2 separate regions of the Homo sapiens genome follow, and region 2 is linked to region 1. The links come from fine-mapping of genetic effects on gene expression. A gene starts in region 1. The other region holds a variant in brackets. All regions are shown on one strand. Distances are from middle to middle. Region 1 holds the start of FLYWCH2 (FLYWCH family member 2). Region 2 holds the start of FLYWCH1 (FLYWCH-type zinc finger 1).

Region 1 (11,866 bases):
CTAAAAATACAAAAAATTAGCCGGGCATGGTGGCAGGCGCCTGTAGTCCCAGCTACTCGGGAGGCTGAGGCAGGAGAATGGCGTGAACCTGGGAGGCAGAGCTTGCAGTGAGCCAAGATCGGGCCACTGTATTCCAAGCTGTGTGACAGAGCGAGACTCCGTCTCAAAAAAAAAAAAAAAAAAAGTAAAGGTTAGAAGAACAGATTGAAAAATGACTGTATACACATGTATACACACACACAAACAACAACAACAACAACAAAAAAACACCAAATTTTGAGCAAAATGGCCCTGACAAAGGTTGCCTGGTAGGAACTGTGTTTTATGAATCATTTTTATGCGTTCTGGAAAAACACAAGTGATACTTTTCTGAATATCAAATTTCAGTTAATCATAGTGTTTAATACCTCATTTTCAAAAATGACAAATATTTCTTTTCTACAATTAGTCCCATGCACACCTCCTAAGTAGTGCAATAATAAATTTGCTTCCATGACTTTTTAACTTAAAAAGTTACTTCTGCTCTTAAAAACCATGATATTTGCTCTAGCTCATGAAGCTGCAGAGAAATAATTCCACAGAATCTCAGAGAAGTGAAGGTTATGAAGATCTCCTCATACTCTCCATTTGGAGGACAAGGTAGCCAAGAAGAAGCCAGTCCTGGGACTTCCTCCAGGATAAGAGGCTTAGCTGGTCAAGCTGGTCAGCCCACAGGACTGGAGCACCTACTGGGCTTCAGGTTCCCCAAGAAGATCATGACATTGTTGAAAGAAATTAAAGAAGCCCTAAACAAATGGAAAGACATCCCATGTTCATGGATTGGAAGACTTGATATTGTTAAGATGACAACACTTCTGACATTGATCTATAGATTCTTAATTCCAGCTGGCTTTTTTTTTTTTTTTTTTTGGAGAAACTGACAAGCTGGTCCTAAAATTCATATGAAAATTCAAGGAACCCAGAATAGCAAAAACAATCTTGAAAAAAAAAAAACTTGCAGGACTGACACATCTCTATCTCAAAATATATTATCACAAAGCTACAGTAATCAATACAATGTGGTACTGGCATAAAGACCGACACAGGCCGGGCACAGTGGCTCATGCCTGTAATCCCAGCACTTTGGGAGGCCAAGGTGGGTGGATTGCCTGAACTCAGGAGTTTGAGACCAGCATAAGCAACATGGTGAAACCCCGTCTCTACTAAAAATACAAAAAATTAGCCGAGTGTGGCGGCATGCAACTATAGTCACAGCTACTCGGAAGGCTGAGGCAGGAGAATTGCTAGAACCCGGGAGGCGGAGGTTGCAGTGAGCCGAGATCACGCCACTACACTCCAGCCTGGGCAACAGAGCGAGACTCCACCTCTTAAAAAACAAACAAACAAACAAACAAAACACAGACACAGAGATCAACAGAATAGAACTGAGAGTCCAGAAATACACTCTTATATATATGGTGAACTGATTTTCAGCAAAGGTGGCAAGACAGTTCTGTGGAGGGAAAATAGTCTTAACGACAAATGTTGGGCCAGGCGTGGTGGCTCATGCTTGTAATTCCAGTACTTTGGGAGGGTGATGTAGGAGGATCGCTTGAACCCAGGAGTTCCAGACCAGCCTAGGCAACATAGTGAGATCTCATCTCTAAAAAAAATATTATTAACCAGGGTGGTGGGGCACATATGTAGTTCCAGCAACTTGGGAGGCTGAGGTGGGAGCGTTGCTTGAGCCTGGGAGGTCAAGGCTGCAGTAAGCTGTGATTGTGCTGCTGTACCTCAGCCTGGGTGACAGAGCAAGACTCTGTCTCAAAAAATAATAATAATAATAATAAAAACAAACATTAAATGCTAGGACCACTGAATATCCAATACAAAAGAATGAAGTTGTATGCTTTCCTCACAGCATATACAAAAATTAACTCTAAATAAATTATATGGCTAGGCATGGTGGCTCATGCCTATAAACCTAGCACTTTGGGAGGCTGAGGTGGGCAGATCTCTTCAGCTCGGGAGTTCAGGTCTAGCCTGGGCAACATGGCGAGACCTCATCTCTACTAAAAATACAAAAAAAAAAAAAAAAAAAGAAAGCCGGGCATGGTGGTGTGCACCCGTGGTCCCAGCTACTTGGGAAGCTGAGGTGGAAGGATTGCTTAAGCCAGTGGGGCGGAGGTTGCAGTGAGCCGAGATTGCACCACTGCACTCCAGCTTGGGTAACAGAGTGAGATCCTGTCTCAAAACAACAAAAAAACAAAAAATTATAGTTTATTACAAGAGCTACAGTAATAAAACTTTTTTTTAAAAGAAAAACTAAATTCTCATAACCTTAGATTAGGCAAAGCTTTCTTCAATATAATGAAAGGCACAAACAACCAATGAAGAAATAAACTGGACTTCAACTAAGTTTAAGAGTTTTGTGTTTTAGCCATAAAACTTTTGAAAGTTAAGAGATAACCCATAGAATGGGAAAAAATGTTTGCAAATCATATATCTGATAAGGGACTTGTATCTGGAATTTATAAAGAACTATTACAACTCAGTAATAAACAAGCAAACAAACAAACAATTTAAAAATGGGCGGCTGGGCATGGTGGCTCACACCTGTAATCCCAGCACTTTGGGAGGCCGAGGCAGGTGGATCATCTGAGGTCGGGAGTTCGAGACCAGCCTGACCAACATGGAGAAACCCTGTCTCTACTAAAAATACAAAATTAGCCAAGCTTGGTGGCACATGCCTGTAATCCCAGCTACTCAGGAGGCTGAGACAGGAGAATTGCTTGAACCCAGGAGGCGGAGGTTGCGGTAAGCTGAGATTGCACCAGTGCACTCCAGCCGGGACAACAAGAGCAAAATCCGCCTCAAAAAAAAAAAAAAAAAAAAAAAGGACAAAGGGGCAGGGCGTGGTGGCTCATGCCTGTAATCCCAGCACTTAGGGAGGCTGAGGCAGGAGGATCACCTGAGGTCAGGAGTTCGAGATCAGCCTAGACAACATAGTGAAACCCTGTCTCTACTAAAAATACAAAAATTATTTTCTTTTTTGGATTGGTGGCATGGTGGCACATGCCTGTAATCCCAGCTACTCAGGAGGCTGCGCAGCATGAGAATTGCTTGAACCCGGGAGGTGGAGATTTCAGTGAGCCGAGGTGGCGCCACTGCACTACACTGCACTGCAGCCTGGGCATCAAAGTGGTACTCCGTCTAAAAAAAAAAAATAATAACAATAATAATAATAATGGGCAAAGGCTCCAAACAGGCTTTTCTCTAAAGAAGATATACAAATGGCTAATATATGAGAAGATGCTCAACATCATTAGTCACCAGGGAAATGCAAATCAAAACCACAATGAGATATCACTTCACACCACCAGGATGGACATAATAAAACAAACAAAAAACAGATAATAGCAAGTGCTGGTGAGGATGAGGAGAAACTGGAACCCTCATACACTGCTGAGGGGAATGTAAAATGGTGCAGCCATTTTTGGAAACCAGCCTGGCAGTTCCTCAAAAGGTTAAATGTAGAGTTACCCTATGACCCAGCAATTCCACTACTAGCTATATGCCTGGAAGAAAGGAAAACACATGTCCACATAAAAATGTGTACATGAATGTTACAGTTGCATTATTCATGAAAGCCAAAACGTTTCGATGGATATTCAAAACAGCCCAAATATCCATCAATGGATGAATGAATAAGTACAATGTGGTGCATGTATAAAATGGAATATTATTTGGCAGTAAAAAAAATCTATGCTACAACATGAATGAACCTTGAAGAAATTATGCTCGGTAAAAGAAGCCAGACCCAAAAGACCACATATTATATGATTCCATTTACATGAAATTACTTAGAGTCTAGAGAATCTACAGAGTAGGAAAATCTATGGAGACAGAACGTAGATTTGTGGTTATCTCGGGATTGGGGTGGGGAAGGGGAGAATGAGAATTGACTACTAGTGGGTATGTGCTTTATGGGGTGATGAAAATGTCCTAAAAGGAATTTTCATGAGGGTTGCACAACTTTGTGATCACACTAAAGCCACTGAACTGTATATTTTTTTTTTTGTTTTGTTTTGTTTTTTTGAGACGGAGTCTCGCTCTGTCGCCCAGGCTGGAGTGCAGTGGCGTGATCTCACTGCAAGCTCCGCCTCCCGGGTTCACGCCATTCTCCTGCCTCAGCCTCCGGAGTAGCTGGGACTACAGGCGCCTGCCACCACGCCTGGCTAATTTTTTGTATTTTTAGTAGAGACGGGGTTTCACCGTGTTAGCCAGGATGGTCTCGATCTCCTGACCTCGTGATCCGCCCTCCTTGGCCTCCCAAAGTGCTGGGATAACAGGCGTGAGCCACCGCGCCCGGCCGAAATGTACACTTTAAATGGGTAAATTGCACGGTATGTGAATTATCTCAATAAAGTTGTTAAATATTCAGAAAAAGGTAAATTGAGTCTATGAACATATGAACAGCAGTTCCCCAATGTCACTATCCCTAAGAATCACCCGGAGTTTTTTTTTTGTTTTTGTTTTTTAGACGGAGTATCGCTCTTGTCGGCCAGGCTGGAGTGCAGTGGCGCGACCTTGGGTCACTGCAACCTCTGCCTCCCGGGTTCAAGCCTTTCTCCTGTCTCAGCCTCCCAAGTAGCTGGGATTACAAGCGTGCACCACCACACCCGGCTAATTTTGTATTTTTAGTTGAGACGGGGTTTCTCCATGTTGGTCAGGCTGGTCTCGAACTCCCGACCTCAGGTGATCCACCCTCCTTGGCCTCCCAAAGTGCTGGGATTACAGGCGTGAGCCACCGCGCCGGCCCCGACTAATTTTTGTATTTTTTTTTTTTTTTTTTTAGTAGAGACGGGGTTTCACCATGTTAGTCAGAATGGTCTCTATCTCCTGACCTTGTGATCTGCCTGCCTCGGCCTCCCAAAGTGCTAGGATTACAGGCGTGAACCACCGCGCCCGGCCTGTGTTGCTTTAAGCCACCTTATTTGTTAGGACAGCAACAGGAAACTAATACAAGGTTCAATCCCTCACTGACGATGTTCTGGACGACAGGACCCCTGCCTGGTGCCTCATGGTGGACCCACAGAATCATCTTCATACGCACGGGGGAGAAACATCACTAATGTCCACCAGCACCGGCATCCTCAGCCGCGAGGACAAATCCCTTACCCTCCCAGCAGGTTTCATCTGCGTAACGGAAATAGTGGTGAATTTATCAGGGGCTGTTAATAGATGACAGGCAAGGGTGAAGTCATCGCAAAAGTTCCCAGACGATATGGACAGCTGCTCCCCAATAATTACTGCTCCACGCAGTCCACAGCGGGGCTGTTATTGACCCCGACAGGATGACGGGACACTAAGGTGTGCAGTACACGTCCTCACAGGGAGATTTAAAAAACCGGCAGTGACCCCTGCCCCAAGAAGGCCAAGAACTGCTACTCTAAGGTGTGCAGCGCGGAGCTTCCCCACCATGGCAATTTCAGCCATGGCAGCTCCTTCCCCTAATCACCAGGGCTCAGAATCTTTATTTCACTCCTTTACCCAATGCAATTGGCATCAAACGCGGGCTGGGCTGCGCCCAAATGGTCCCAGCTCCCCGGCTCTCTCCTCTCTCAAGAATACCCACACCCTGAGGCCCCGAGTGTCTCCCCCGCCCCAGTATCTCACGCCTCCAACTCGCTGCCGTCCCTGCAGGGACCTCCCGAGCTGCAACCGTGGGACGAGGCCGGCGGGGGTTGGGGGGTGCCGGGAAGGCAGCGCTGGGCGCGGCGGACACGGCCAGGGACCGGCGGGCGAGTGCGGACCTCCTTCGTGTGGGGGTGTTGAGGCTTTGGACAAGGGACTGGAGGGGGTGGGGAAGGAGGGGCGAGAGGCAAAGAGGGAATCGCGGGAGACCCCACAGGAGGCGGCCTGAGCACCAGGACGCGGACCCCTCCTCAGCACCCGCAGCCCTCGGGACCCCCGAGAGAGCCGGGCCGGGGACTCGTCCATGCCGAGGACGCAGGACCCTCCCCGCCCGCCAGGGCCCGTCCTCACCGACGACAGCGGTGCCCTCCCTCTCCGGCGACAGCGCCGCGGCGGGTCCCTCAGCCTCCGCGCCAAGGGCCCCAGCCTCAGCTCGCGCTGTTACCTCAAGCCGGGGTCACAGCGCGAGCATGCGCAGCAAGGCCGCGGGTGCCCTGTCTTCTGGCTGGGGCCGCTCCTCCGCGTCTTGCCCGTGCGGCGTAGAGCTGGCGTCCGGCCAATCGGAGGGCGGAGGCGGGGCCAAAATTCAGTAAGGGGGCGGGGACACCCGGGATTGAGTGTCGCCGTCAGGGGCGGAGCCTCGGGGGACCTGCGGCCTGGATCCGGGTTGCGGGCGAGGTTATCCCAGCACCAGTGGGTTGGGCTTCACTGCGACCCCCGGGCTTCCTCACGGATTTGACTCCGGCTCTCTGCGGGGAAAACTGGAGCATTTGTTTAAAGGTTTTGCTCTCCCCCGTCGCGATACCGAGCGTGCGGAGGGAAGGTGTTTAGGCTCATGGAAGCCACTGCCTTGCTTTAAGCTCTGCATCCTTGACGACGCAGCAGCCTCATCCGCGCCATTGGTCCAGCCCTCGTCTATTAGTTTAGCCCCTGCCCATTGGTCCAGCCCTCGCCCAATAGTCCCGCCCTCTCTCTGTAGTTCAGCCCCTGTCCATTCATCCTTTCTCGTTATTGGTCCAGCCCTGGCCCATTGGGCCCACCCGTGCCCACGGGCCCCGCCCTCTCCGTGCCCAACCACGTTCACCCGGCCCAAGGGGTGCCCGGGACACTCGCCATCCTCCAGCCACCCACTGCAGTGGGACTGGGCTGGGTCCGGGCACAGGGAGCTGTGGGGCCCTGGGCGCTGCTTTCCTGGGACACTTGGCTGCAGCGTCCAGAGCGGCCCCCGCACAGCCCCCTAGGCTCACCGCGGCTCTCCCAGCCCCGCGGGGTCGCCCCCACTACCCCGGCCACCTTGGTCCCCCTAAGCCTGGCTCCGCGCCCCGCCCCCCTCGCTCTAAAGCGGCCGCTGAATGTGCCACCGCCCCAGGGCTCCAGGGTCCAGGTCGAGATCCTCTGGGGCCTCCCGCACCTTCCGCCTTCTCACGTCCGAATGCCAGCGTCGCTGCACGCCCTTCCTCTGCCCTGCCCCTCCCGGCCCTGGCTCTGCAGGTCTCTGAATCCCACCGTGGACTCCGCTACCAAGGCTCCCGCTGCCCCCATCCCACTATCCTATCTCCCCGGGCATTGTCTGGTGTCATTCAAGGCCTTTGTGCTTTTTTTTTTTTTTTAGAAACGAGAATTGCGCTCTGTCGCTCAGGCTGGAGTGCAGTGGCGTGATCTCGGCTCGCTGCAACCTCTGCCTCCCGGGTTCAAGCAATTCTCATGCCTCAGCCTACTGAGTAGCCGGGATTACGGGCGCCCGCCACCACGCCCGGCTAATTTTTGTACTTTTAGTAGAGACGGGTTTCACCATGTTGGCCAGGCTGGTATTGAACTTCTGACCTCAGGTGATCCACCCGCCTCGGCTTCCTAAAGTGCTGGGATTACAAGAGTGAGCCACCGTGCCCAGCTACCTTTGTGCATTTATTTGCTGTTATCTATTAATCATTCACAGACTACTGGTTGTTTTTAACTTGATGATGTTATAAATATCTTTGTATATGAATCTCTGATGTCAAAGATTTTTTTTTTTTTTTTTTGAGATGGAGTCTCGCTCTGTCGCCCAGGCTGGAGTGCAGTGGCGTGATCTCTGCTTATTGCAACCTCCGCCTCCCGGGTTCAAGCGATTTTCCCGCCTCAGCCTCCCAAGTAGCTGAGATTACAGGCACCGGTAATCATGCTTAATTTTTATATTTTTGTAGAGATGGGATTTCACCATGTTGGCCAGGCTGGTATCAAACCGGAGTTACCTCCGGTGATCTGCCCACCTCGGCCTCCAAAAGTGCTGGGATTAGACATGTGAGCCACCTTGCCTGTCGAGATATTAAAGATTTTTTTTTTTTGAGACAGAGTCTCACTCTGTTGGCAAGACCGGAGTGCAGTAGCACGATCTCAGCTCACTGCAACCTCCGCCTCCTGGGTTCAAGTGGTTCTCCTGCCTCAGCCTCCCAAGTAGCTGAGATTACAGGCGCCTGCCACCGCACCCAGCTAATTTTTTTGTATTTTTAGTAGAGACGGAGTTTCACCATCTTGGCCAGGCTGGTCTTGAACTCCTGACCTCGTGATCCACCCGCCTCAGCCTCCCAAAGTGCTGGGATTACAGGTGTGAGCCACCGCACCCAGCCAAAGATTTCTTGAAAGTCTTAAAAGAGGTCAAAGGAGGCAAATATTTTTAAAAGCTTTTTAAACATGTAGCCAAATTGTCCCCAAGGAAGTGCACAAGCTTGGGGTTAGATGCTTGGGTTCAAGTCCCTGCTGTGTCAATTGCCAGCTGTGTGAATGAGCAATTACATCCCCTCTCTGTGCCTCAGTGTCTTCACCTGATAAATGGGGGTGATAACGCACCCACCTCCTACAGCCATTGTGAGAATTCACAGAGTATTGTCATGTGGACTGATAAGAGTCTTGGTTGTTTTCTGTTTCTTTTTGTTTTTGTTTGAAACAGAGTTTCACTCTTGTTGCCCAGGCTGGGGTGCAGTGGTGTGATCTCGGCTGACTGCAACCTCCACCTCCTGGGTTCAAGTGATTCTCCTGCCTCAGCCTCCCAAGTAGCTGGGATTACAGGTGCCCGCCACTAAGCCCGGCTAATTTTTTTTGTGTTTTTAGCAGAGACGGGGTTTCACTATGTTGTCCAGGCTGGTCTTGAACACCTGACCTTGTGATCCACCCATCTCGGCCTCCCAAAGTGTTGGGATTACAGGCATGAGCCACCGTGCCTGGTGAGTCTTGGTTTTAAAATTTATATTCCTTAGTCCAGCAATTCTCAAACTTTCTGGTCTCAGAACCACTTATGACACAGGATTTTTCAGTGCCCCTTAGTCAGCCAGAGACCTCCATGGCCAGCAGCACCCCTGTTCAGGCCTCCCTTGGCCTGGGCTCGGTGCAGGAGACACCCCACCCATTCCGCCATTTGTGTCATGTTACAGCTCTTTCAATCCCGCTGCCCCCCTTGGGTCCTCAGCTTCAGGGCTGGCCCAGCCCACTGCTATTTCCTCTTGCCTGGGCAGGTTCTGGGGGTGGGTGGAGGGCTACAGTGTTACAGCCTTTTTCCTACCAGTGGTAGACCCTCCAGAGTTCTTGTCCCACATCCAAGAAGAATGAGGTTATGCTGACAGCCAGTGGGTGAGCAGGGTGAAGAGTTTTATTGAGCTAACAAACAGCTCTCAGCGAAGAGGGGACCCTCTCAAAGTCGGGTAGTTCCCCCCGCCATGGTGTGTAGACCCCAAGTGTGGCTGAGTCTGAGGTTTTTATTGGCTCAGAATGGGGGAGTGCATGCTGATTGGTTTCTGAGTATGCAAAAAAGGCTTAAAAGGCACTCAAAATTGGGCATGACAGTGTAAACAACCAGTTAGGGAAGGGTAGGTGTATGTAAAATAGGTGAAATGTGGGGATCAGTCAGAGGAAAGTGGGCCACACGGGAAGAGAGGTTCTCAGTATGTTCCATGAATTTATCAGAGACTTGTAGCTTGGTTTTCAGGCTTTAAAATGTCTTTGGTTTGAAGGCCAGTTTCACCAGGGATGGGATCTGTCTCTGTCTGCCTGGGGATTTGTCTGCCTCCTGCCGCCATCATTTTCACTGTTAGTTATTGAGACGCTCAGAGAGATTTTAGTTATGTGGGTTACATCTATCAATATTTACTATATAGAAATTTAGGCTGGGTGCAGTGGCTCATGCCTGTAATCCCACCACTTTGAGAGGCCAAGGCAGGTGGATCACCTGAGGTCAGGAGTTTGAGACCAGCCTGGCCAACATGGTGAAACCCAGTCTCTACTAAAAATACAAAAATTAGCAGGGTGTGGTCGTCGTGGGCGACTGTAATCCCAGCTACGTGGGAGGCTTGAACCCGGGAGGCAGAGGTTGCAGTGAGACAAAACAATGCCACTGCACTCCAGCCTGGGCAACAGAGTGAGGAAAAAAAACAAGACGGCTGGGTGCAGTGGCTCACGCCTGTAATCCCAGCAGTTTGTGAGGCTGAAGCAGGCAGATCATGAGGTCAGGAGTTCGAGACTAGCCTGGCCAACATGGTGAAACCCCATCTCTACTAGAAATACAAAAAAATTAGCCATGTGTTTTGGCATGTGCCTGTAATCCCAGCTACTCCAGAGGCTGAGGCAGAATTGCTTAAACCAGAGCCGCGGGTGGCGGTGGCAGGTTACAGTAAGCCAAGATCATGCTACTGCACTTCAGCCTGGGCGACAGAGCAAGACTCCGTCTTGGAAAAAAGGAACTTAAACTGATAAATTTAAAAACAGATTTATTAAAAACAGTGGTAATTAACCCACTGTATATCTTTAAACCAAAGGAATCAGTGAGTGGCAGTGTTTACACTTTTAAAAATCACTTTAGTGGCTGGGCGCGGTGGCTCACGCCTGTAATCCAAACATTTTAGGAGGCCGAGGCAGATGGAGCACCTGAGGTCAGGAGTTTGAGACCAGACTGGCCACCATGGTGAAACCCTGTCTCTATCAAAAATACAAAAATTAGCTGGACGTGGTGGCATGCACCTGTAATCCCAGCTACCCGGAAAGCTGAGGCATGAGAATTGCTTGAACCCAGGAGGCGGAGGTTGCGGTGAGCCGAGATCGCGCCACTGCACTCCAGCCTAGGTGACAGAGCAAGACGCCGTCTCAAATAAATAAATAAATAAATAATAAAAATCACTGGCCCGGCGCGGTGGCTCACACCTGTAATCCCAGCACTTTGGGAGGCTGAGGTGAGCAGATCACGAGGTCAGGAGTTCAAGACCAGCCTGGCCAACACAGTGAAACCCCACCTCTACTAAAAATACAAAAATTAGCTGGGCTTAATGGCGCGAGTCTGTAATCCCAGCTACTCACGTGGCTGAGGCAGGAGAATCGCTTGAACGCGGCGGGCAGAGGTTGCAGTGAGCTGAGATCATGCCACTGCACTCCAGCCTGGGGGACAGGACAAGACCCTGTCTCAAAAAATAGATCACTTTAGTGTCTGGCTTAAGAGACTACAGCTGCATTGTCACAACTGCCTCTGCATTCACTCTTCTGTGATGTGTTGTTTGCATTGAAGCACACAAAGAAAATCCAGCCCACACAGATAAATATTTGGAAAAGGGAGAAATATTTTAACAGCCTTTTCAGATAATTGTGGATAGTCTTCCTTGATACTACATCAAAACTCATGTGGTGGTTCTTAAAGGTTAGTTGCAGTGTAGAATCTGAAGTGGCATCAGTACAATTTTTGTATTCAATTACATCAGAATCCCTTGGTCAGCCAGGCGACGTGGCTTATGCGTGTAATCCCAGTACTTTGGGAGGTTGAGGAGGGTGGATTTCTTGAGTCCAGGAGTTTGAGACCAGCCTGGACAACATGGCGAAAACCCATCTCTACAAAATATTTACAAATTAGTTGGGTGTGGTCGGATGCCGTGTCTCACACCTGTAATCCCAGCACTTGGGAGGCTGAGGTGGGCGGATCACAAGGTCAGGAGTTCGAGACCAGCCTGACCAACATGGTGAAACCCCGTTTCTACTAAAAATACAAAAACTAGCCAGGCGTGGTGGCACGTGCCTGTAATCCCAGCTACTCAGGAGGCTGAGGCAGGAGAATCACTTCAACCCGGACGGCAGAGTTTGCAGTGAGCCAAGATCATGCCATTGCATTCCAGCCTGGGCCACAGAATGACACTCCGTCTCAAAAAAAAAAAAAAAATATTAGTCAGCTGTGGTGGTGCAC
Region 2 (11,866 bases), 25 kb before region 1:
TCAGGTGAGAGAATTGTTTGAGCCCAGGAGTTCGAGACCAGCCTAGGCAACATAGTGAGACCTGCCCCTCGCCCCCACCATTTCTACTAAAAAAATTTTTTTTTAAAGCTCCTGGATGACTCCAGTGTCTACCCACCTCCCACCTACCCGCAACTGAACCATGAGCGTTGGAGGTGCACTTGCCTCAGACATGAACCACTATGGTGACATCACAGGCTCAGTGGGTGCACACAGACATTCCTCCTGAAGAGGTTGAAGGTGGCAGAGATGCCCAGATAATTAAAATTTACTCTAAAAATGAACTTCACAATCTCAGCACCGTTGGCATTTTGGGCCGGATGATTCTGCTGTGGGAGGCTGTCCTGTTCAGCGTGGGGTGTTCAGCAGCAACCCCGGTCTCTACCTGCCAGATCCCACTGTCATGCCCTACCACACGTTGTGACCACCAACACTGCAGAACGTTCCCTGGGGTGCAGAATTGCCCAAGAGCCACAGCTCCAAAGCAACTTAGAAATTAGAGCGCACAGAAAGGGAGAGCTTGGCCAATGAGACCCCCCCAGCCCGGTATTCCCCAGTCACCCTCCATCATAATATAAGTTTATTTACTCCTTCCCACAGCCTAATGCATCCTCAAATCTCTCTCCCTCTATGCCTGATATACCCATCTTCCCTCTCCTTCCCACTCCCACCAACTCAGGACATGATCCCTTACCACGACCTCTTTAGCCCAAGCCAAAGCCTCTGAACGATCTTGCCAGCTTTGGCAAGCAGCCACTCCAATTCTCCACATAGGGTGCTGACAGGTCACTCTTCCTAAAGCTTAACTTTCAGCATGTCTCTCCCCAATTAAATCATCTCCATCTCCAGCCTTAGTGCATCATCAGCTGGGCGTCATAAACACTCCGCAATCTAGCCCCAACCTCAGCCTTGTTCCTTCCACACGTCCCGCCAGTAGCACTTGGGAAAGGAACAAGAGAAACATGATATAATCACACGAGAAAATCTAGATCAAGCCCTGGAAATCATATTGGCCCTTGGAAAGCAGAAATATGCAAATAAAAATAAGCCATTTCGTTGGAATTGGAGTTTGCACATGATTATCTGACTATGGGAGTTCAGCTTCCAGTACAAGGAATAAAGGAACAACAGGCAGGGTTTAGAGCGAGGGTTTCAACTACGTCAGACCCGTTATGTGCAGGCTCCATGGGTTAGCAGCAGCCTTTTGGAACGGGGTGGAAGAGAATGGAACGGAATTTAATCCGAACAGATCCAGCTGCGTCATGTGAGCTTAAACAAGCGTCTCCCTTTAAACTTGTGCTTCAGTCATCCAGACCCACAGGCACAGAGTACACGCGTAAAAGGCATTTCTCAGTGTCGGCTGTGGGTCAACAAAGTTCGAAAGCCGTCACCGGAGATCTATAGGGTCAGAAGCGGGAGCGGGGTGCGTCCCGACCCGCAAAAGTGCAAGGTCACTGGGACCGCCCGAGCTGCAACCGTGGGACGGGGCTGATGCTGCGGGTCCAGGAAGGCAGCGCTGGGCGGGGCAGACACCGCCAGGAAACGGCGGACGAGTGCGGGGATCCTTGATGTGGGGGTGTCGGGCTTAGGCCAGGGGACGGGGGGGTGGGGATGGAGGGGCGAGGAGCAAGGAGGGAATCGCGGGAGACCCCACAGGAGGCGGCCTGAGCGCCGGGACGCAGACCCCTCCCCAGCACCCGCAACCCTCGGGACCCCCGGGAGAGCCGGGCTGCGGGCGCGTCCACGCCGGGGACGCGGGACATTCCCCGCCCGCAGGGGCCTGTCCTCACCGACGGCAGCGGGGCCCTCCCTCTCCCGCGACAGCGCCGCGGCGGATCCTTCAGCCTCTGCCGCTGCAGCAGCGAGCGTCGACCCCGCGACCCAGGCCGCCGCCGCCACCCCGACCCGGGCACCAGCTCCCAGCCCCGACCTGCCCCTCGGGAGCGAGCCCCGTGACCGCGCGCGCGACCCCGCCGGGGAGCCGGCCTTGCGGAACGCTCAGGCGCGCTACTTCAGAGCATGCGCAGCAAGACCGCGCGGCCCGTTCCTTAGGTAAACCGCTGCTCCGGGTCTTCCCTGCGCGGCGCCGAGCCGCAGGCCTGGCCTGTCAGCGCATGGGGGCGGGGACGTAACTCACGGAAAAGGCGGGGCCATCCCGAGATTGGACGGCGGCGTCCAGGGGCGGAGCTAGGATGGGGGAGCTGAACAGGACGCTCTTGGCGTAAAGGGGCTGGGGTAGGGGGCGCTTAATTGAGACCCCAGGACGGTCCCCAGTATCTGAGGCTGCCCGCAGGAAACGGAGCGTTTGCTGAGATGCACTCTTGGGCCTGTCAGTTTCCTGACCCCGTGGGAAGGCGATTCTCATGCATCTCATTGACGCCCCCAGTGACCCTACCCCAGAGCGGAACCAGTGTGAGATTCAAATAAACAGCGATAGCAACGGATTATAACCTTGACTACGATATGAGTCCAAACTGAAGGAAATAAGTCAACGGGGGAGAAGGGACAGTTGTTTCTTACATCAGAAAGCCAACAACGACAAAAAAATACCTGGGCCGGGCGCGGTGGCTCACGCCTGTAATCCCAGCACTTTGGGAGGCCGAGGCGGGTGGATCACCTGAGGTCAGGAGTTCGAGAACAGCGTGGCCAACATGGTGAAACCCCGTTTCTACTAAAAATACGAACATTAGTCGGGCGTGGTACTGGGCGCCTGTAATCCCAGCTACTCGGGAGGCTGAGGCAGGAGAATAACTTGAACCCGGGAGGCGGAGGTTGCAGTGAGCCGAGACGGCGCCACTGCACTCCAGCCTGGGCGACAGAGTGAGACTGTGTCTAAAAAAAAAAAAGCAGAAATATTACATAGTATTACAAAGTCTGCATGACGTGTGATGTAACACATTGAATGTAGAAGCAGGTATGAGAGCCAGTAGTCTTCTTTTAAGCCCGCAACAAAGATATTTGCAAAAATGTATAACTATGTCACTCGTCTCACTAAATTTCTTTGGGAAAATATTGTACTTTTTCATAAAACTATGTTAACACAATCAGCTTACTATTTTTTGGTAAGATCTTTATTGAAATATAATTCACATACCATGCATTTCTCCCATTTAAAGTGTACAATTAAATGATATGTAGTATAGTCAGAGAGTTGTGCAAACAGCACCATAGTCAGTTTTAAAACCTTTCATCACTCCAAGAAGAAACCTTTAGCCACCACCCTCCAATTTGCTAATCACCCCAGCCCTAAGTAATATGATCTATTTTCTGTCTTTATAGATTTGCGTATTCTGCATATTTCATATAAATGAAATCATGCAACAAATATGTGGTCTCTTGTGACTGACTTCTTTCGCCTAGCCTTAGCATAGCACTTTCAAAGTTCATCCATGTTGGCCGGGTACAGTGACTCTTGCTTGTAATCCCAGCACTTTGGGAGGCTGAGACAGGAGCATCGTTTGAGCCCAGGAGTTTGAGATCAGCCTAGGCAACATAGTGAGACTCTTTCTCTACAGAAAAAAAGAAAAGAGGAACAAGAGAAAATTAGCTGGATGTGGTGATGCGCTGTAGTCCCAGCTACTCAGGAGGCTGAGGTGGAAGGATCACTTGAGCTTGGGAGCTGGAGGCTGCAGTGAGCTGCGCTCATGCCACTGCACTCCAGGCTGGGCGACAGAGCAAGACCCTGTTCAAAAATAAAATAGTAGCAGAACTTAATTACTTTTTTTTTTTCTTGAGATGGAGTCTTGCTCTGTCGCCCAGGCTGGAGTGCAGTGGCACGACCTCAGCTCACTGCAACCTCCATCTCCCGGGTTCAAGTGATTCTCCTGCCTCAGCCTCCTGAGCAGCTGGGATTGGGATTATTACAGACAGTTGCCACCACGCCCGGCTTTTTTTTTTTTTTTTTCTTTTTTGAGACGGAGTCTCGCTCTGTCGCCCAGGCTGGAGTGCAGTGGCGCCATCTCGGCTCACTGCAAGCTCCGCCTTTCGGGTTCACGCCATTCTCCTGCCTCAGCCTCCCGAGTAGCTGGGACTACAGGCGCCTGCCACTGCGCCCAGCTAATTTTTTGTATTTTTAGTAGAGACGGGGTTTCACCGTGGTCTCGATCTCCTGACCTTGTGATCCGCCCGCCTCGGCCTCCCAAAGTGCTGAGATTACGGGCGTGAGCCACCACGCCCAGCCCCTCCAGCTTTTTTTGAGAGGAGTCTGACTGCGATGCCCAGGCTGGAGTGCAATGGCGCTATCTTGGCTCACTGCAACCTTTGCTTTCCGGTTCAAGAGATTGTCCGCCTCAGCTTCCCCAATAGCTAGGACTACATGCGTGCGCCACCATGCCCGGCTGATTTTTGTATTTTTAGGAGAGACGGGGTTTCACCACGTTGTCCAGGCTGATTTCAAACTCCTGACCTCAGGTGATCTGCCCGACTTGGCCTCCCAAAGTGCTGGGATTACAGGCATGAGCCACCATGCCCGGCCAGGATGCTGTTTTTGTTTCTTCGTTTGTTTTGTTTAGTTTTTGAGACAGAATCTCCCTCAGTCGTCCAGGTTGGAGTGCAGTGGTGAGATCACAGTTCACTGCAGCTTCCATCAAACTCTTGGGTTCCATTGATCCTCTTGCCTCAGCCTCCCAAGTACCTGGCACTACAGGTGCACACCACCGCACCCGGCTAATTTTTTTTTTTTTTTTTTTTTTTTTGTGGAGACGGGGTTTCCCTATCCTGCCCAGGCTGGTCTTACATTCCTAGGCTCAAGTTATTCACCCGCCGCAGCCTCCCAAAGTGCTAACCACCACGCCCTACCTTTGGCACCCTTGTTGACAACCAATTGATCATAAATGTGGTTTGTTTCTGGATTCTTGATTCTATTCCATTGATGTATCTATTACTTATTTATTTATTTAGAAACGGAGTCTTGCTCTTCTTGCCCAGGCTAGAGTGCAATGGTGCGATCTTGGCTCACTGCCATCTCTACCTCCCGGGCTCAAGTGATTCTCCTGCCCCAGGGTCCCAAGTAGCTGGGATTACAGGCACCCACCACCACGTCCGGCTAAATTTTTGTATTTTTAGTAGAGACAGGGTTTCACCATGTTGGCGAGGCTGGTCTCGAACTCCTGACCTCAGGTGATCTGCCCTCTTGACCTCCCAAAGTGCTAGGATTACAGGCATGAACCACTGCGTCCTGCCTGTTATTCCTTTTCAATATTCTTTTGCCTACTCTGGGTCTTTTGAGTTTCCAGTTGTCATCTTTCTTGTCAATCTTTGTGAAAATGAATCACTACCTTTAATTTTACATCGTTGAGACCACCGCAATTTTTTTTTTTTTTTTTTGAGACGGAGTCTTGCTCTGTTGCCCAGGCTGGAGTGCAGTGGTGTGATCTCGGCTCACTGCAATCTCTATCTCCCGGGTTCACGCCATTCTCCTGCCTCAGCCTCCCGAGTAGCTGGGCCTACAGGCGCCCGCCACCAAGTCCGGCTAATTTTTTGTATTTTTAGTAGAGACAGGGTTTCACCGTGTTAGCCAGGTTGGTCTCAATCTCCTGACCTTGTGATCTGCCTGCCTCGGCCTCCCAAAGTTCTGGGATTACAGGCGTGAGCCACCACGCCCGGCCGCAATTATTATTATTATAATTATTTTGAGGGGGACTCTCGCTCTGTTGCCCAGGCTGGAGTGCAATGGTGCGATCTCGGCTCGCTGCAAATCTGCCTCCGGGTTCAAGCGATTCTTCCGCCTTAGGCTCCCGAGTAGCTGGGATTACAGGTGCGCACCACCACCCCGGCTAATTTTTTAATTTTTTAAATTTTTTTTTTTTTTTTTGAGACGGAGTTTCGCTCTTCTTGCCTAGGCTGGAGTGCAATGGCGCGATGTCAGCTCACTGCAACTTCTGCTGTGGGCGGCAAGCCACCCAGGCGCCGAGGCAAGAGACTGAGGACACAAGCTGTTCCAGTATAATAAAATATAAAACAAGAATAGTTATACCAGATATAGATCTTAGACATGATTATATATGAATATCATTAATCATTAGTTTGTAGTAATTACTCTTTATCCCAATATTATAATAATCCCCGCTCTATAATCATAACCTAGGAAAAACCAGGCCATACAGAGATAGTGTAGCAGGACGAGTCGCAGACAAAACTCCTCAGACACCGGATTAAAGAAGGAAGAGGTTTTTTTATTCGGCCGGGAGCGTCAGCAGACTCGTGTCTTAAGAGCCGAGCTCCCTGAAAAAGAAATTCCTAGCCCTTTTAAGGGCTTACAACTCTAAGGGGTCTACGTGAAAAAGTCGTAATAGATCAAGTAAGCATGAGGAACGTGACTGGGGGCTACAAACATCAGTTAACAGAACAAAAAGTTTTATAGTGCTTTCTCATACAATGTCTGGAATTTACAGATAACACCAGTAGTTTTGGTCAGGGGTTAATAATAATATTATTATTTTAGCCACCAGGGCCGGGTGGTGGCGCCAAGGTCGTCTAGCTATTTATCTTACTTCTGTTTCTTTCCAACTTTTTGCTTTCTCTCTTTTCTCCTGTCTTATAAACTAGGGAAAAGGGGAGGTTGGGGAGAAACTGGGAAGGACAACAGGAGAAGTGGTGGCCTCATACCATAATAGGAGCTGAGGGGACACAGTGAGGTGTGACCAGAAGACAAGAGTGCGAGCCTTCTGTTATGCCCGGACAGGGCCACCAGAGGGCTCCTTGGTCTAGCGGTGACGCCAGCGTCTGGGAAGACACCCGTTGCCAGGGGGACCATGGTCTAGCTGTAGCGAAAAGTGTCAAGGAACAACACCCGCTACTTAGCAGACCAGGAAAGGGGGGGGGGGTCTCCCTTTCCCCGGGGGAGTTTAGAGAAGACTCTGCTCCTCCACCTCTTGTGGAGGGCCTGACATCAGTCAGGCTTGCCCACAGTTATCCGGAGACCTAACCGTCTCCCTGTGATGCTGTGCTTCAGTGGTCATGCTCCTAGTCTGCCTTCATGTTCCATCCTGTACACCTGGCTCTGCCTTCTAGATAGCAGTAGAAAATTAGTGAAAGTACTGAAAGTCTCTGATATGCAGAAATAATGGTGTAAGCTGTCTTTCTCTTTGTCTCCTCTCTCTCTCTGCCTCGGCTGCCAGGCAGGGAAGGGCCCCCTGTCCAGTGGACACATGACCCACGTGACGTTACCTATCATTGGAGATGACTCACACTCTTTACCCTGCCCCTTTTGCTTGCATCCAGTAAATAACAGTGCAGCCAGACATTCGGGGCCGCTACCGGTCTCCGCACATTGGTGGTAGTCGTCCCCCGGGCCCAGCTGTCTTTTCTTTTATCTCTTTGTCTTGTGTCTTTATTTCTACACTCTCTCATCGCCGCACACGGGGAGAGACCCACAGACCCTGTGGGGCTGGTCCCTGCACTCTGCCTCCCGGATTCAAGTGATTCTCCTGCCTCAGCCTCCTGAGTAGCTGGGATTACAGGCATGCGCCACCACGCCCGGCTAGTTTTGGATTTTTAGTAGAGTCTGAGTTTCTCCATGTTGGTCAGGCTGCTCTCTAACTTCCGACCTCAGGTGATCCACCCACCTTGGCCTCCGAAAGTGCTGAGATTACAGACGTAAGCCACCCCTCCCGGTCTTAATTTTAATTTTTACTAGAGACGTGGTCTCCCTATGTTCCCCAGGCTGGTCTCAAACTCCTGAGCTCAAGCGATTCTCTCTCCTTGGCCTCCCAAAGCATTGGGAAACAGACGTGAGCCACCCCAGTCAACCTCCTTTTGGGATTCTTGCAACTTTTCTGTAGGTGAGAAATTATGTCAAAGTAGAAGCTAGATAAAGGAATACTCCCTTCATCCCCTGAGCATTCCACGAGGTGAAATCCTCCTTTTCCCATTGGCCCAGCCACCGCCCAGCCCGTGGCCATTGGTCCAGCCCTCGCCCATTGGTCCAGCCCCGGCCCATCCCTCGTCCATTAGTCCAGCCCTTGCCATTGGTCCAACCCATCCATTGGTTCAGCCCC[G/A]CCCATTGGTACCGCCCCCTTCCATTGGCTCAGACCCCGTCCTTTGGCCCCGCCCTGCCCATTGGCCCTTCGCTCGCCCATTGGTCTAGCCACGCCCATTGGCCCAGCCCATCCCTCGCCCATTGGTCCATCCCCGCCCTTTTGTTCCACCCCTTCCGTCGGCTTAGTGCCCGCCCTTGGCCCGGCCCGCCCATTGGTCCAGCCCCGCCCATTGGCCCAGCCCCGGCCCAGCCCTAGCCCATTGGCCCCGCCCCGGCCCAGCCCTAGCCCATTGGCCCCGCCCCGCCCATTGGTTCAGCCCCACCCATTGGTTCCGCTCCCTTCTATTGGCTCAGCTCCGCCCCTTGGCCCCACCCCGCCCATTAGTTCAGGCCCCATTCATTGATGTCCAGCACTCGCCCATTGGTCCACGCCTTGCCCATTGGTTTAGCCCTCGACCACTGGCTCACCGCTAGCGAATTGATTCGGTCCCCGCCCACTGGTCCCTCCCCTGCCCACGGGCCCCGCCCTTCCCGCTGTCCCTTCCTGGCTCAGCGCGCGCCAAGGACACATTCTCCAGCAACGCGGTGCGGTACCGGGCTGAGTCCAAGCGCCAGGAGCCGCGGGGTCCTGGTTGCTGTTTTCCTGTGACGCTTGGCGGCGGCGGCCAGAGCGGCCCCAGCACCGTGCCCTGGGCTCACTGCGGCTCTCCTATCACCCAGGGGTCGTCCCGGTCCGCCCGCACTCTTCTCTCCGCCCGACCCCCCTCTGGCTGCGCGTCCTCGGCTGGCTCGGGGAGGGCGCCGCTCCTCCCTGGGAGACCCCAGGGAGACCCGCCTCACGGCCTGCGCACCTCCTCTCGCTCTAAAGCGGCCGCTGGAGGAGCCACAGGTCTGGCGGGTCCATGTCGAGGTGCCCTGGGCTCCCGCACGACCCCACGGCCTCCTGCGTCCCGCACCTCTTGTGTCCTGCAGCCGCCCGCGTCCTCTCTGGGACCCCTTCCTTCCGAGTCCGTCCACATCCCCGGCGGTTCCTCTGAAATCCGCACCCCCCAACCCCGGAACCTCGGCTCTTCCGCGCGCTCCTCGTCCCCGCATCCTCAGCCCCTAGATGTCCTCCGCGTTCTGTATCCCCCTGCACCACACCGCTCCCTCTCTCCCTGCCCTTCGCACTAGGACCCTCAGGGACCAAAATCGTCCAAGATGCCTTCCCTGGTGTCGAGTTTATGTTAAGGGGTTGGGTGAGGAGACCAAAAAGCAGTGGATGTGGTAACCACAGGGGCGCCGTGTGTCCGAGTCGGGCGCCTGTCGGAGGAAGCGAGACGGGAGGAGAGGCTGCGGCTCGCGCCCTGGGCAGCGACAGTGTGGACGCCATTGCAATTTCCCAACGGCTGCCACCCGCAGGGTCAACACACAGGCCCCCTCCACCCCTCCCAGTCGCCCACCTCCCATCCCTGCAGAAGCCACCTTAGAGCCGGTGTCTGGGCCGTAAGGAGCCCGGGTGGGGGTCAGGCGGGTGGGCGGAGCGGGACTGAGGCTGCGGGGCGGAACCGCACTCCTGGCTGCCAGCACTGCCTGGGTCCTGGGGAGGCTGCTGGGCCGCCGCTGAGTCCGCGCGCGCCCTCTCCCGGCCGTCAGGAGCATCGGCCAGAACGTCTCCAGATTCCGGCCCTGAACCCGGATGAGGCCCTGCCCAGCGCTCGGTGCTGTCCAAGGAAAATGAGACCTCGAGGTGAAAAGCGCAGAGGCTGTGCACGCTAGGGCCAAGCGGAGGACGCGTTATTACTGTTTTCTTCTTGATGATAAAACCAGGTGTTGACAAATGCCGGAGAGATCGGCATTCGCAGGACGTGGGTTGAATGTAACTTGCATTCTTCCAGTTCGGCAATCTCACTTCTAGAACTCTGTCCTAGGAACATACGAGGCTATTTCAGGATTGCTTACAACCTGGAGGCAACCGGGATGTGTCTGGCCACTGGAGCTAGTGGATTTCACGCATCCCTGCAGTGGGCATCAAGCAGCAAAAAGAATGTTGTGCAGCATTCATAAGAAGGAAGACATTTGTAACACATTATGAAAAAACATATGTGGGCCAGGCACGGTGGCTCATGCCTGTAATCCCAGTACTTTAGGAGGCCGAGGCGGGAGGATGACTTGAGGTGAGGAGTTCAAGACCAGCCTGGCCAACATGGCGAAACCCCGTCTCTACTTAAAAATACAAAAATTAGCCAGGCACGCTAGCGCGCGCCTGTATTCCCACCTACTCGGGAGGCTGAGTCAGGAGAATCACTTGAACCCGGGAGGCGGAGGTTGCAGTGAGCCGAGATCTCCCCACTGCACTCCAGCCTGGACGGCAGAGCGAGACTCTGTCTCAACAACAAATGTGTGGCATCACCTTGATTTTCTGAAAATAAAAAAATTTTAAAAATATATATTTTTTGGCCGGGCGCGGTGGCTCACGCCTGTAATCGTAGCACTTTGGGAGTCTGAGGCGGGTGGATCACCTGAGGTCGGGAATTCGAGACCAGCCTGACCAACATGGAGAAACCCTGTCTCTATTAAAAATAAAAAATTAGCCAGGTGTGGTGGTGCATGCATGTAATCCCAGCTACTGGAGAGACTGAGGCAGGAGAATCACTTGGACCCAGGAGGCAGAGTTTGTAGTGAGCCAAGATCGCACCACTGGACTCCAGCCTGGGCAACAAGAGTGAAACTCTGGCTAAATATATATATATAGCCAGAGTTTATATATACAAATATATAAATATAAATATATATAAATATATAAATAAATATATATAAATATATAAATAAATATATATAAATATATATAAATATGTATAAATATAAATATATATATAGCCAGAGTATATATATTATATACACACACACACACATATATTTTTTAAAATTTACCTCTAAGTAGTGGAATTACTGGAGGTAATTTGTAATTTTTGTCCCCTTTTCAAAATTAAAATTAATGACATCTACACTCAGCAACCACACACATGGGCGGGGGGCACCGTTCTTGGAGCTACTGCAATACCAGGTCGATGCATGGAGTGAACTAAGTAAGCTGCTATTGCAACCCCCTCCTACAAAAATCCACTTTATATACATTTTTTTAGACAGGGTCTCATCATGTCACCCACTCTGGAGCTCAGTGGTGCCATCATGGCTGACTGCAGCCTTGACTTCCTGGGCTCAGGCAATCCTCCAGCCTCAGCCTCTTGAGTAGCTGGACTATAGGTGAGCTCAGGTGATCCTCCTGGCTCAGCTTCCCCAGTAGCTGGGACTACAGGCACGCACCACCACACCTAGCTAATTTTTGTATTTTTTTGTAGAGTCAGTGTCTCACTATGTTGCCCAGGCTGGCCCCCACTGGGTTGGCCTCTGTCATACACCCCGCGGCACCCAGACTCCTCGGTGGCCCTTAGCCTCAGGTTCATAGACTCATCAGTCAGGGATTTCTATGTTTCCTCTGTGGCTCTGCGGGGGATGGGTTGTGACCTGTTTACCACTAGATCCCGGGAACCCTGCTTGGGCCTGTACATCAAAGTCCCCAAGAAGTGAAGGAGCAAGAAAGTGGCAGAATTTTTAAAATTTTCAATTTAATTTAAAAAATTAATGTTTTAAAATTTGTGTTTGGATTTAAAATGTGAATGGATATCCATAATTGCATTTTTTTTTTTTTGAGATGGGGTCTCGCTCTGTCGCCCAGGCTGGAGTGCAATGGCATGATCTCGGCTTACTGCAACCTCCACCTCCTGGGTTCAAGTGATTCTCCTGCCTCAGCCTCCCGAGTAGATGAGATTACAGATGCCCACTGCCACGCCTGGCCAATTTTTTGTATTTTTTAGTAGAGACAGGGTT

The links. PIP is the estimated chance that this variant, and not a neighbour inherited with it, causes the effect.
Region 2: its variant is fine-mapped to the expression of FLYWCH2 in whole blood (INTERVAL, PIP 0.92).

What each region holds. Positions count from the first base shown.
Region 1 is chr16:2,877,528-2,889,393 of GRCh38, reverse strand. It overlaps FLYWCH2 (FLYWCH family member 2), which reads right to left and starts at 6,179. Exons shown (of 4, transcript NM_138439.3): 1 at 6,028-6,179. RefSeq lists silencers at 5,744-5,803, 5,894-6,063, 6,564-7,033 and an enhancer at 6,762-7,262.
Region 2 is chr16:2,902,097-2,913,962 of GRCh38, reverse strand. It overlaps FLYWCH1 (FLYWCH-type zinc finger 1), which reads right to left and starts at 2,032. Exons shown (of 10, transcript NM_001308068.2): 1 at 1,809-2,032. RefSeq lists silencers at 1,399-1,588, 1,562-1,661, 6,669-6,738, 7,905-8,724, 9,395-9,624 and 3 more and an enhancer at 8,339-8,839. The variant G/A (reference allele first, on the strand shown) is at 8,016.